Linked DNA regions of Homo sapiens. The protein of the gene in region 1 interacts with the protein of each later gene in a pairwise test. Each region holds a gene or a part of one and is shown in the gene's direction. Other genes may lie near its edges.

The links. Proteins that work in one complex are often made in the same cells at the same time.
Region 2: the proteins of DAB1 (region 1) and RBFOX1 interact in a two-hybrid assay, tested with the Homo sapiens proteins (one large-scale study listed by BioGRID and IntAct).
Region 3: the proteins of DAB1 (region 1) and USP53 interact in a two-hybrid assay, tested with the Homo sapiens proteins (one large-scale study listed by BioGRID).

What each region holds. Positions count from the first base shown.
Region 1 is NC_000001.11:57,421,261-57,425,334, reverse strand, and holds the start of DAB1 (disabled homolog 1), read left to right. Parts: upstream 1-1,274; 5' UTR 1,275-1,405; intron 1,406-2,222; exon of another isoform or gene 2,223-2,318; intron 2,319-4,074. UniProt on the Homo sapiens protein: Signaling adapter of the reelin-mediated signaling pathway, which regulates the migration and differentiation of postmitotic neurons during brain development.
Region 2 is NC_000016.10:7,576,024-7,579,523, forward strand, and holds part of RBFOX1 (RNA binding protein fox-1 homolog 1), read left to right. Parts: intron 1-3,500. UniProt on the Homo sapiens protein: RNA-binding protein that regulates alternative splicing events by binding to 5'-UGCAUGU-3' elements. Regulates alternative splicing of tissue-specific exons and of differentially spliced exons during erythropoiesis.
Region 3 is NC_000004.12:119,219,213-119,222,712, forward strand, and holds part of USP53 (ubiquitin carboxyl-terminal hydrolase 53), read left to right. Parts: intron 1-3,500. UniProt on the Homo sapiens protein: Deubiquitinase that mediates 'Lys-63'-linked deubiquitination of tight junction proteins, such as MARVELD2 and LSR, and which is involved in the survival of auditory hair cells and hearing.

The sequences.
Region 1 (4,074 bases):
ATCCATCACATTATCTTTGTTATTATACAGCTGGAAGACAGGAGTGTAGCCCCAAAAAGAGTAACGGTAAACTTTTTAAGGAAGGGTTGCCTGCCTCTTGCTTTCCTTTTCTGCACCTGGGTCCAACAGGGTGGTTTGTGTGCTGTGCGAATCTACATATTATGCACTTGATTTGATTCACCAGGCTCCTCTCTTCTCCTGCATTTCAGGCCTCTGGAGACAGGTATGCCACACAACAGGAATTTTCTGGAGTTGAATCTAGTCTCAAGGTGGAAGAATTTTCAGAATGACCCAATATTTTCTGCGACTTGGTGTTTCTAGGATCTTTGTGAGCTAGGACCCTAAGCAAGGAGCAACTGACTGTGTACTCGCTGGAGCCGCCTCCCGCACAGCTTCGAATCGGAGGATTGTTTACTCCCAGTCATTCTAAGAGCCGAGTAGGGGAGTCGCGGGGAGTAAGCCGGAGTTAACCGTGGTCTGCGTGCTCTCAGGGGCACGGGTCTCTCCTGAGGACTGACGGAAACTTGACACGTGCCAGCCTTCTCCCTCCCAACTTGCCGAACTTTGCCTGGGAAACCTCAGTCAAAACAGGAGCCGCCGAACCTGCACTGGCGGCTGGGAGCGAGCGCCCCCTCCTGCCAAGGGGCGTGGGGGCAACATGCCCTCGCGGAGACTCCCCTCGTGGTTTCGCCCTTCCTGGCACTCCATATATTTGGGTATGCATATGTTTTCGAGGCTTGGATAAAAGGGTAGATCTTAGAGAAAAATGAGAGAGGCCAGGCGGAGCTGCGTCCAGTGGTGGTGATGGGGGAGAAAACACTGGATACTTTGTGACAACCCCCCTCCCTTACCCTCTCCACGCTGGCGCGGCTGGGGCGGGGACCCCTCGCTCTCGGCTCGTCTCTCCCCCTTCCACGCTGGGATGGAGAGAGAGTGCAGGGGCTCCAGAGGCGCGACTGCAAGCCGCGGCGCCCCCGCTCGCTCGCTCGCTCGCTCGCTCGTTCTTCCACCTCCTCGTCGCCACCGCCACTCGGCTAAGCTCTCGGAGCGCGCTCCGGCTGCGCAGAGAGCGCCCCGGAGGGAGCCGCGAGGCCGGGGCGAGGGGCTCACGGCCCGGCGGCGGCGGCCGGGGAGCTAGCAGGTGAGCGGTGCCGCGGGGCGCCGGGCGGGCGCGGGGGGCGGCGGGGCGGGGGGCCGCGGGAGGAGGCGGGTCCGCGCGGGTGGCGGTCTCCTCCCCCTACTCTGACGCGGGGCCGGTGGCTCCCGGGGAGGATGGACCCAGCTCGGCGCTCGCCCGGGCTTCCCCGGGCTGCAGAGCGCGCCTGAGTGCCGCCGCCCGCCGGGCATGGGGAGCCGCTTCCTGGGCGGCTGCGGCAGCGGAGGAGGATGCTCTGGGCTAGGCGAGGTGAGGCGCGGCGGGGGCGCGCGGCAACCCTTGAGTTCAGCGCCGCAGGTGCCCCGCGAGGACAGGGCGCCGGGGAGCCAGGAGGCTTCGCTGGAGCCCCGGGGCGCGGAGGAGGGCTCCTGGGACGCGCCACTCAGCAGTTTGGCTAGGGGTGCTGGGAGGATGGCGACTGCAGCAGTTTTTCGCCTTCTCCCTCCACTTGCTGGGAGGAAAAGGGCGACTTCTCTTTCTCTGTCCTGCCCCCCATCCCCGCGCCCCTGTCTCCCTACTTCCGACCACGCGCGATCCTGTCTCCAGACTTGTCCACCCCTGACACGCGTCTCTCTCCAAGACCCCCTGCGCCCTCTTTCCTCCTGCGGTCCTGGCTATATCGGACCTCGAGCCTGCCTTCTCCCGCTGTCCTGGGCTCCCGAAACTCCCTCCCTCCCTCGCTGGTGGCCAGACCCTTTTCCTCATTCGGCCGAACCCCGTTCTCACTTCCCTACTCCTCCGTAGCGCTGAGATTCGGCTTCGACCTCTCGAAAAACCGACTCTATCCCAGTAATCCCAGCCCTTTCGCGGGCACCGTGAGAACTGGATCCCGCGTTCCTCGGACCCCGGCCTTTCTTCGGATCCTCTGTGGACTCTGTTCTCTGCCGCTCGTCCCCCTCCATCCACTCCCCAGCACCCCCTCCCCCCACGCCCAGCTAGTCGCCTCCCCAGCCCGCCCCTCTTCCTTCTCTCTGCTCCAGACTCGACGCTCTGACTTGGATGCAGAGAGCTCAGTTTTTTTTTCTACCAAGGAAACTTTAAATCTCTGTGGTTCGGCTCATAAAGCAGGCACACAAGAGGGTGTCAACCGCCGAGAGAACCCAGAGGCAGGGAGTCCGAGATGGGGGGAGGTCGTGTCGCGGCGTCTGAAAGGGGCCACTGGGTGAGTGTACAAAGTAAATTTCAAAACCAGGGTGGCTGCTGCAGCCAGGACCCTGCCTCCGCTGGCTGCGTCCCGAGGAGTATTATTGTGACCCCTGGTGGGAGGGCGCATCTTTTCTCTGCACTTTTTAAGGCGCTTTTTCTTTTCTCTGTTTTTGTTTTTTGGTGGTGCTGGTGGGCCTGATGGGGGGCAGTGGGCACAAGGGATCGCTGCCTGGAGAGGCGGACGCCACTTGGCTGCTCCCAGACCCGCCAGACTGTGTACGTTTCACTCCGTGTGAACTACCCCCAACCCCCAACTGCATCGCACAAATCCTCATTGTTGGGGGTCTGCTGGGGCACTTCCGCTTAGGCTGGGAGAGTCTGAAGGAATGGCGTGGGGGTGGGGAGGCCGGGGGCGCTTGGCTACCGCTCCGCTCTTGGCGGCGGGCGGAGTGGAGAGCGCCGCGACGCGGGCATCTGTGCGCTCCGGTGTGTATGTGTCGCCGAGTCTGGGGTGCGCGCCCGCGTGGGTCGGTGTCTGCGTGTGCGTTTGGATGTCGGCGCACGCCTGTGTTTAGCTCCATTAGAAAGAGGGGCGATGTAGGGCTTGCGGTAGCGAGAGCGCCTTTCTCCGCCTGGGAGCTGGACGGGGGCGAGCCCGGGGGCGAGCCCTCCTGCGAGCTGGATGCTCCAGTGCAGCTCCTAGCCAGCCGGCGGGGACCGGGGCGAGAATCCGCGCCGTCGTTTCTTCCTCCTTCCTGCTCCCTTCCTGCTGGCCGGTTAAATACACTTTAACAGTGTTGATAGTTTTGAATAAAGGCTGTGTGGGGGTTCCACTACACTTTACAACACTTAACGTTTTCAAGTAATCATATCAATTAAATTAAAGGTGGCTTACGTTCAGAACCGCCTAATTATCCAGTTCACGTTGGTACATTTATGTGCCAATTATAGGTCTTTGGGAAATCCATAAAATTACAAACCATCCCCACCCCTTGAATTAGCACCCATTGTTTTTGTGATCTCCGTGATGAGTGATTCTGGATGGCACCGGAACTGCGCAGGCACTAAGATAGATGGGGGTTCGGAGATGTCAGAAGGAGTAGGCACCCCCCCCCGCCACCCCCCCCCCCGCCACCCCCCATCTCTTTCACTCCCTATCCTGACAAGGCTTGGTGACAATTCTGGGAACTGAAAGTGATCAAAGATTTTCTTGATTTCCTATTGAGAAGGGCACCTAATCAAAGCTGTATAAAAGTCAACTTCTAAGCAATCAGAAATTGTCTGCTGATGTCCTTGATTGAAACCCCAGCATTCAAATGGAATATTGAAGAACTCGCAGAAATGTCTTTTGAAGCGCTATTGTTCTTTTCCATACACAAAGGCTCTCTTAAAGGTTTAGGAAGTTCAAAATGCAGTGGTTTGAAAGGACTGACTTTGTAACTATTTGGCAACGCTGGGAGGATCCGCAGGGATGAGAAAAGAGGCCGAAGTGGGAAGTGCAAATATGTTGTGACCATCTTCTTGGGAACGGTGCTGCTATCAAGTAGGAATTCAATTCTACACATCGAGTTGGCAATTAAATCTCTTCCTAAAGCAGATTTAGAAGATGATTTTTAGTAGTTTTTATTTTTTAATGGTTTGCTTGAGGTCTGAATAGGCATATCTGAAACATTTAATCATGTTCATTGTATTCAACGATAAAATCTGAATAAAAATTACTTATTGTTGATGAAGCTCATCTCACAAGCTGTTTCACAGTATGTTTCATTTGC
Region 2 (3,500 bases), on another chromosome or scaffold:
CCTGGGCTCCAGCCATCTCCCACCTCGGTCTCCCAAGTAGCTGGGATGGCAGGCACATGGCCATGATCAGCTATTTTTTTTTTTTTTAATTTATTTAGTGGAGACAGGGTCTCACTATGTTGCAGGCTGGTGTCAAATGATCCTCCCACCTTAGCCTGCCAAAGTGCTGGGATTACAGGCATGAGCCACTGCACCTAGCCCCATTACCCCATTAATGTCCTTTGATGGAAAAGTAAAGTGAAGGTCAGAGAAGAAAAGTGACCTGCCTAAGATTAGCAAATAACAGGGATGGTCTGTGTGATTCCAAAACCCTGGTTCATTGTGCTGCATCCCACCATATAAAAGGCATGCAGGCTGAAAGAGATTTCCTTTTTCTGTTGTTTTATTCACTCCTCAACCTCTACTTCCTAACACTCTTCTTTTTCCCTTTCCATACACCCACAATGACCTGAAACACTTTTGGCTTACTTTTTTATTTTGCATGCTTTAAGGATTCTTTTTAATACACAGGTATTTCTCCATAACAGTTTATACGCATTTGTATATAAGCATACACTACAAAATGATTAATTGAGCGTTGTATGTTTTTATCAAAGGAAACAATGCAAAGATTTCTCCAAAGTGCTGTTTGACTAGAGATGATTAATTTTAATTTTCACATGAGCGGTATAATGCTATTAATCATTTAATATGTTTAATCATAATCTCTGTAATTCCTAATTAGGTTCATTAAACTGAAACATCCAGCAGTTATACACAAATCCAAATCTATGTTTCCTTCTCAGGATAAGAAGGAGCTCATTTTGTTTTTGCATTGAAACGGGAACTTCTAACAGGATGGAAGAGAATGGACTGGAAGCTTAGGGTTTCAGCTACAGCATCTGTAAACTCCGAGTCTGGGTGTAGAGTACTAAAACCCCTTAACTTCTGAAAAGTGACAGTTGCAGGATTCGAGCTCATTTCTGTGTCATGGACGTGGCACCAAACCTCGTATTCTCAGCGGAGAAAACGCAAATTCTGCTCTGTTTGGGTTTCAGTGTTACAGTGTTGCTCTTCGACTATCACATGAAGGCGGCGACATTGATTGTACACTTCTTCATGCATTTGTTTATTCGTGTACTAATAATTCATTCGGTCAGTGAGTGAGCCAACTGTTAAACAGACATTTATCATTTGTGTTACAAGCTGGTCATACCACACTCCTGCTGTGACCCTTAGGTGGCTCCTTATTGCTCTTAGGATGAAGCTCAGACTCTTGCTTTGCACAGTGTCCTTTGATCTAGCCCCTTGACTATCTTTGAAACCTGTCCTCCTGCCTTCCCTTCATACATGCCTCATCTGACCAGTGGTGCTGGAGTCCACACATACTCTCCTGAATCCAAGACATCATTTCACATCTCTGCACATCTGCACATGCACTGCCCTGTCTTGGAATAGCCTCAGTCCTTTTCACCTCTTCTCTTAGACATCTCCCACTTAACGTTTAACCTCCAGAATTGGCAAGCCTGGCTGAACCTCCAGCAGTGTCATATGACCTTGATTTAAGGTTACTCAGCCCTTTGTGATTGCCTCTTATCCCAACATTTACCAGTCTCTGGGGATGGTGGCTCACGCCTGTAGTCCCAGTGCTTTGGGAGGCAGAGGCAGAGGCAGGAGGATCACTTGAGGCCAGAGGTTCAAGACCAGCCTGGGCAACTTAGTGTGACCCAGGCTCTGCAAATAAAAATTAGCTGGGTATAATGGCTCATGCCTGTAATCCTAGCTACTTGGAAGGCTGATGTGGCAAGATTGAGCCCAGGATTTCAAGGCTTCAGTGAGCCGTGATTGTGCCATGGCATTCCAGCCTGAGTGACAGAGCAAGACCCAACTCCAAGAAAACAACAACAAAAGACAATGACAAAATGATTCTATTTATGATTGTTTTTCTCTATTGGTGTCATGCACTAAAGTTGGAATTGCATGTGACAAGGAGGGCTGATTTATGTGTCCAACACAAAGCAGTTGCTCAGTAAAGATGTGTAAACACTTTAAAAATAAGCAAATGAAAACCTTTCCTTCGTGTTTCTCAAAGGAGGTTTATTTCTCTTTTTGGTATTTAAAAAACTTGCCATCATTCTAAACATTTCGTCACTTTCCATTTATTGAATACATACCAGGAACTTGGCCAAGTTAGCACACATTAATCAATCACAAAGCCTCAAAAGGTATGAACTCATTATTCTTTATTTACCAGTTAAGAAAATGACCACTGTACTGCTTCCTATTCAATCCAACAGTATAGGCAAAATGACTAAATACATTGTCTAAATACATGACTTGCACTTAAAAGCTGAAGTCAACTGGTAGGTCTTTTGATACCAGAGCATCTTGGAAGAATGGTTTGCCAGCTAACAAGATGTCTTTATTTCAAAATGCGATTCAGGGTGTGTTAGGAAGGAAAATGCAAATGAAACCTTCCAGTACATACCAGGGCTGATGAGAAACTTGCTAATTATGCCCATGTTATCTGAGTGTTTGTTTTGTATTTCACTTTGTAAGATTGTCTTCTCTCGGTCGTTATTATTTTACACCTGGCTGCCTACATTGATAGTTTTGTCCCAATTATGTACTTCTAGATTGCTTATAAACAGGTCAGGATGATTCCTCACTCATAAATTTGATAGGCTTCTGTGTAAGCTTTCTATCATAGTTTCAAAGTTGGTATCTGATGTGGATGGCATTTACTGCCAGCTGGAGGCAATAGTTGCTAATTGCAGAGAAGTATCAAATGCTAAATGTCTGAAATGTTAAAACTCTAGAACCGAGAGTATGGCAGTGGCTATAATGATACCTAATGTGACTGTGACTTTTCCCCTCGTTCCTGCCAAATATGTGGGTGTCAATGTAACGTCATGTTATACAGCCTTATTTGGAAGACAGGGGAGGTGAAACAATCAGTTATGCTGATGATGTTACATGGTCTAGGCAAACAGAGCACAACAGCACTTTCTGCAGAGATGGAAACGTTCTGTATTTGCATTATTCAGTATGGAAGCAATAACTACATGTGGTTCTTGAGCGCTTGAAATGCAGCTAATGCAAACAAAGTTAAATATCTTGTTTTAATTCAGTTAAATGTAAATTGTCACATGTGGTCAACTGTAGTGGACAGCAAAAGTTTGTACAATTAGAACCTCAAAAGAATAAGTCAATCAGCTGGTTATTTGAACTCCAGAATGCCAACTAGTCTTTTCACATTTTTTACATTTAATTATGTTTTATCTGCACAATTACCTGAACAATTATGTAGGCATATCTTCAGATTCTGAACAGCGTCGGTTAAGAAATACACACTGTCCTGCCTTTAAAGATTATTACCCCCTTCTTGATGAGGTTCTCGCTCCCCACCTCCCAACCCCAGCAGCTCCCAGTCCCCTTCCTTTGCTTTTTCTAGCCTATAGTGCTTTTCTCTGTCTGCCAACACTCTATCTATGGATTTATTGTCTGTGTTGCCCTCATGA
Region 3 (3,500 bases), on another chromosome or scaffold:
GACAGAAATTTATTCTCTCACAGTTCTGGAACTAGAAGTCCAAAATCCAGGTGTCAGCAGGATTGGTTCCAACTGAGGGCTCTGAATAGAATCTTTCCTTGCCCCTTCCTAACTTCTGGCAGTGGCTGTTCATCTTTGGTGTTCCTTGACTTGCAGCTTCATCCTTCCAGCCTCTGCCTCTGTCATCATTCTCTCTCTTTCTCTTCTTATAATGACTGCTACCAGTCACATTGGATTAGGGTCCACCCCAGTGACCTCATCTTAATCTGATAACATTTTCAAATACCCTGTTGCCAAATACATTGACATTCATAGGTCTGGGACTTGGACATATGTTTTTGGGAGACACAATTCAACCCATAATAGGTATAATGAATCAGGTTTAAGATGCCATTATCATTTACCCAGACCATTCTAGTAGCCTGATAAAGTTATTGGATGTTAGAATTTGAACAAATTCCATATAGTGTCATCCCCTTTTGGGGGAAAACACCTGTTAAATAATTTATATAGCATGGTGAAGATTACCTAACTAATTATGTATTGGGCTTAAGTTTTGGAAGGAGAAAAGATAGTTTGATAGTCTTGTCTAGGGTAATGAAGGAGAGTGGCCCTGGAATCTTGCCTTTTAGGATAAAATTATTGCTGGTAAAGCACTGACTCATAAGAAAACAGCAGTGACTTATTTCCTTTCTTTTCTTTTCTTTCTGTCTCTCTCTCTTTCTCAAAACTTCTGGTTCATTTTAAAGTTCAAATTTAAGTTTTTTATTTTAAAATATTTTATTGGAAAGTATTAATAACTGATATTAAGCACTTAATAAAGTTAAACATTTTGTTTTTTCTTATTTAAGCCTTACAGAAATTTTAATAACAGTAAATGTTGTAATTATCCTTATTTTACAGGCAAATGTGGATATATGTTTATAACTGCACAAATGAATTCTGAAGGGACGCATAAGACATTGGTATTGGTTGCCTATGGGGAATATAATTGATATGGGGGAGACTTGGTTTTCCTTGTATGCTCTTCTATATGGTTTAAAAAATTATTTATGAAAATTAAATATATACTAAAAAAGAGGGAAATTGCTGAGTTTTTCCTTTTAGCTGCACTATTAACTCTTTTAGGAAAAAGCAGTGATCTATCAAATTGTATTGAGATATTCAGTAGATCTGCTACTGAAGTACTTATTTACATTGGAGTTAAAAACACAAATGCAGTTTGACAAATATAAATTCTTAGAAAAAGTAAGTTCTACTCTTTTATTTGGGGATATAATATTTTACTTATTTCATATTTGCAGTGTTGTAGGGTAATGCAGTTGCTTTTAACAAGCCATAAGTGAACTTCTGAGAATTTCATTCAAAGTAAACAGTTAGGAGAATATAAGATCCTTTGAAGTGATTCTGCCAGTTTTCTAATTTTTTTCTTTAAGAATTTCTTAAGCATTGTGAAATATATTTATGTATTTAAACTTTTAGAAATTTATGCTGTTAAGGAAAAAATTATTCATGACAATTGTTAAAGATGGTAAGGAAGACACTTGTTACAGATAGGTACAGGGAGCACTGCAATGGAGTCTTGCAGTTGGGGAGAGAGATTGGGCTCTACTCTATATACTACAAGTAAAAGCGGGAATTTATAGACAAGGATGTGGGTGTGGTTGGTGGATGGAAAATTACTAGGGGGCAACATTAGGAATAAGAGAGGATTCTGGCCAAACTGACCTAACAGGATTCTTGTTGAAGGCAGGCCAGGGTGATCAGACATCACCTGGAGGATGGTGAAGGATGAGGAACCTAATCAGATATGAGGATGATCAGATAAGGAGAATGGCTGACTTGACTTAGTAGGACTCTTGCTAAAATTGGACAACGTAGAGACAAACAAGGAAGTCCAAAAGTTGAGGAATAGTTGAAAAAGAACATGGAATAGCTCGAGTGGAGTTTGATCAATGAGAGAATCTTTGTCAATATTTTCTGACACCTGTATCTGAAAATATCAAATAGTTACTTATATTAGGCCCATTTAGAAAATCAAAACTGTTGTATTACATTAGAATTAGTATTAGTGGCAGGGGCACAGTGGCTCATACCTGTAATATCAGCACTTTGAGAGGCTGAGGCAGGAGGATCGCTTGAGCCCAGGAGGTCAAGGTTGCAGTGAGTCATGATCAGGCCACTACACTCCAGCCTGGGTGACAGAGTGAGACCCCAGCTCAAAAAAAAAAATTAGTACTAGTATTGAATTAGAAAATTTAATATAAGAAAAAAATTTAAAAAGCTGTTAGAAGACCTTAAGGAGCCACCAGGGGAAGATAAATTATCTGGTGTTGTAAGTTGCCACTGTCCCTAGGCTTAAGTTCCAAAGACAGGAGCCCAAGAGCTGGAACCACCAAGCCTGACCTAGAACTTTAGAGGCCTTGCTGTAAACGGGGAACTTGAGCCTTCGAGGAGAATATGCCAGAGATAGCAACAGGGCAGAGAGAGAAGGGGAGAAATACCTTGGCTTCTCTCCTTTGTCTTCGATTTTCTGGCAGTGCCTCTGATTGGCCGAAATGGGCCAGAAATGGATTCACAAGGGATCCTGGGAAATGCTGTTTGCAGAGATCAGCTCTGTATGGTTGTCCCATACACAGCAGAGCAAAGGAGAGAGGGGGATGATTTTGAAATCAAACATGGACATAAACTGCATTGCACTGAAAACTTACCACAATATACAATAGCACCTTGTGCTTCTCTTTCCTTCTAGTGCCACCCTGAAGAAGCAAACACTTTCAAGTCTTTCAGCTGATTATTCTATAGTTTTATTTATATTTCTAAATATGAATTCTGTATTGCTATTTGGTGATTTTTCAAGCTTAAATTAACATTAATTTTCTATGATGGTGGATATAGGTTTAGTTTTTTTATTTTCTTCCTTATTCTTGCAATAGAATTGTATCTTTTTTTAATTTTAAATTTTATGGATATGTAATAGTTGCACATCTTTATGGGGTACATGTGATATTGTGATATAAGCATACAGTGTATAATGATCAAATCAGGGTTGTTGGGATGTCCATCGCCTTAAGCGTTTGTTTCTTTGAGTTAGTAACATTCTAATACTACCCTTGTAGTTATTTTGAAATATACAATACATTACTGTTTAGTCACTGTGTTGTGCTACTGAACACGAGAACTTATTCCTTCTAATTGTATTTTTGTACATTGACCAACCTCTCTTTATCCCTTCTCTCCACTTCCTTTCCCAGCCTCTAGTAATTGTTATTTTACTCTCTATATCCATGAGATTATTTATTTATTTTTTAGCTCCCACATATGAGTGAGTACATGGGATATTTGTCTTTCCGTGCCTGTCTTATATCACTTAATATCCTTCACTTCCATCCATGTCGTTGCAACTGACTGGATTTCATTCTTTTTTATGGCTGAATAATATTCCATTATGTATACATACCACATTTTCTTTATCCATTCATCCATTGGCGGACTTAAGA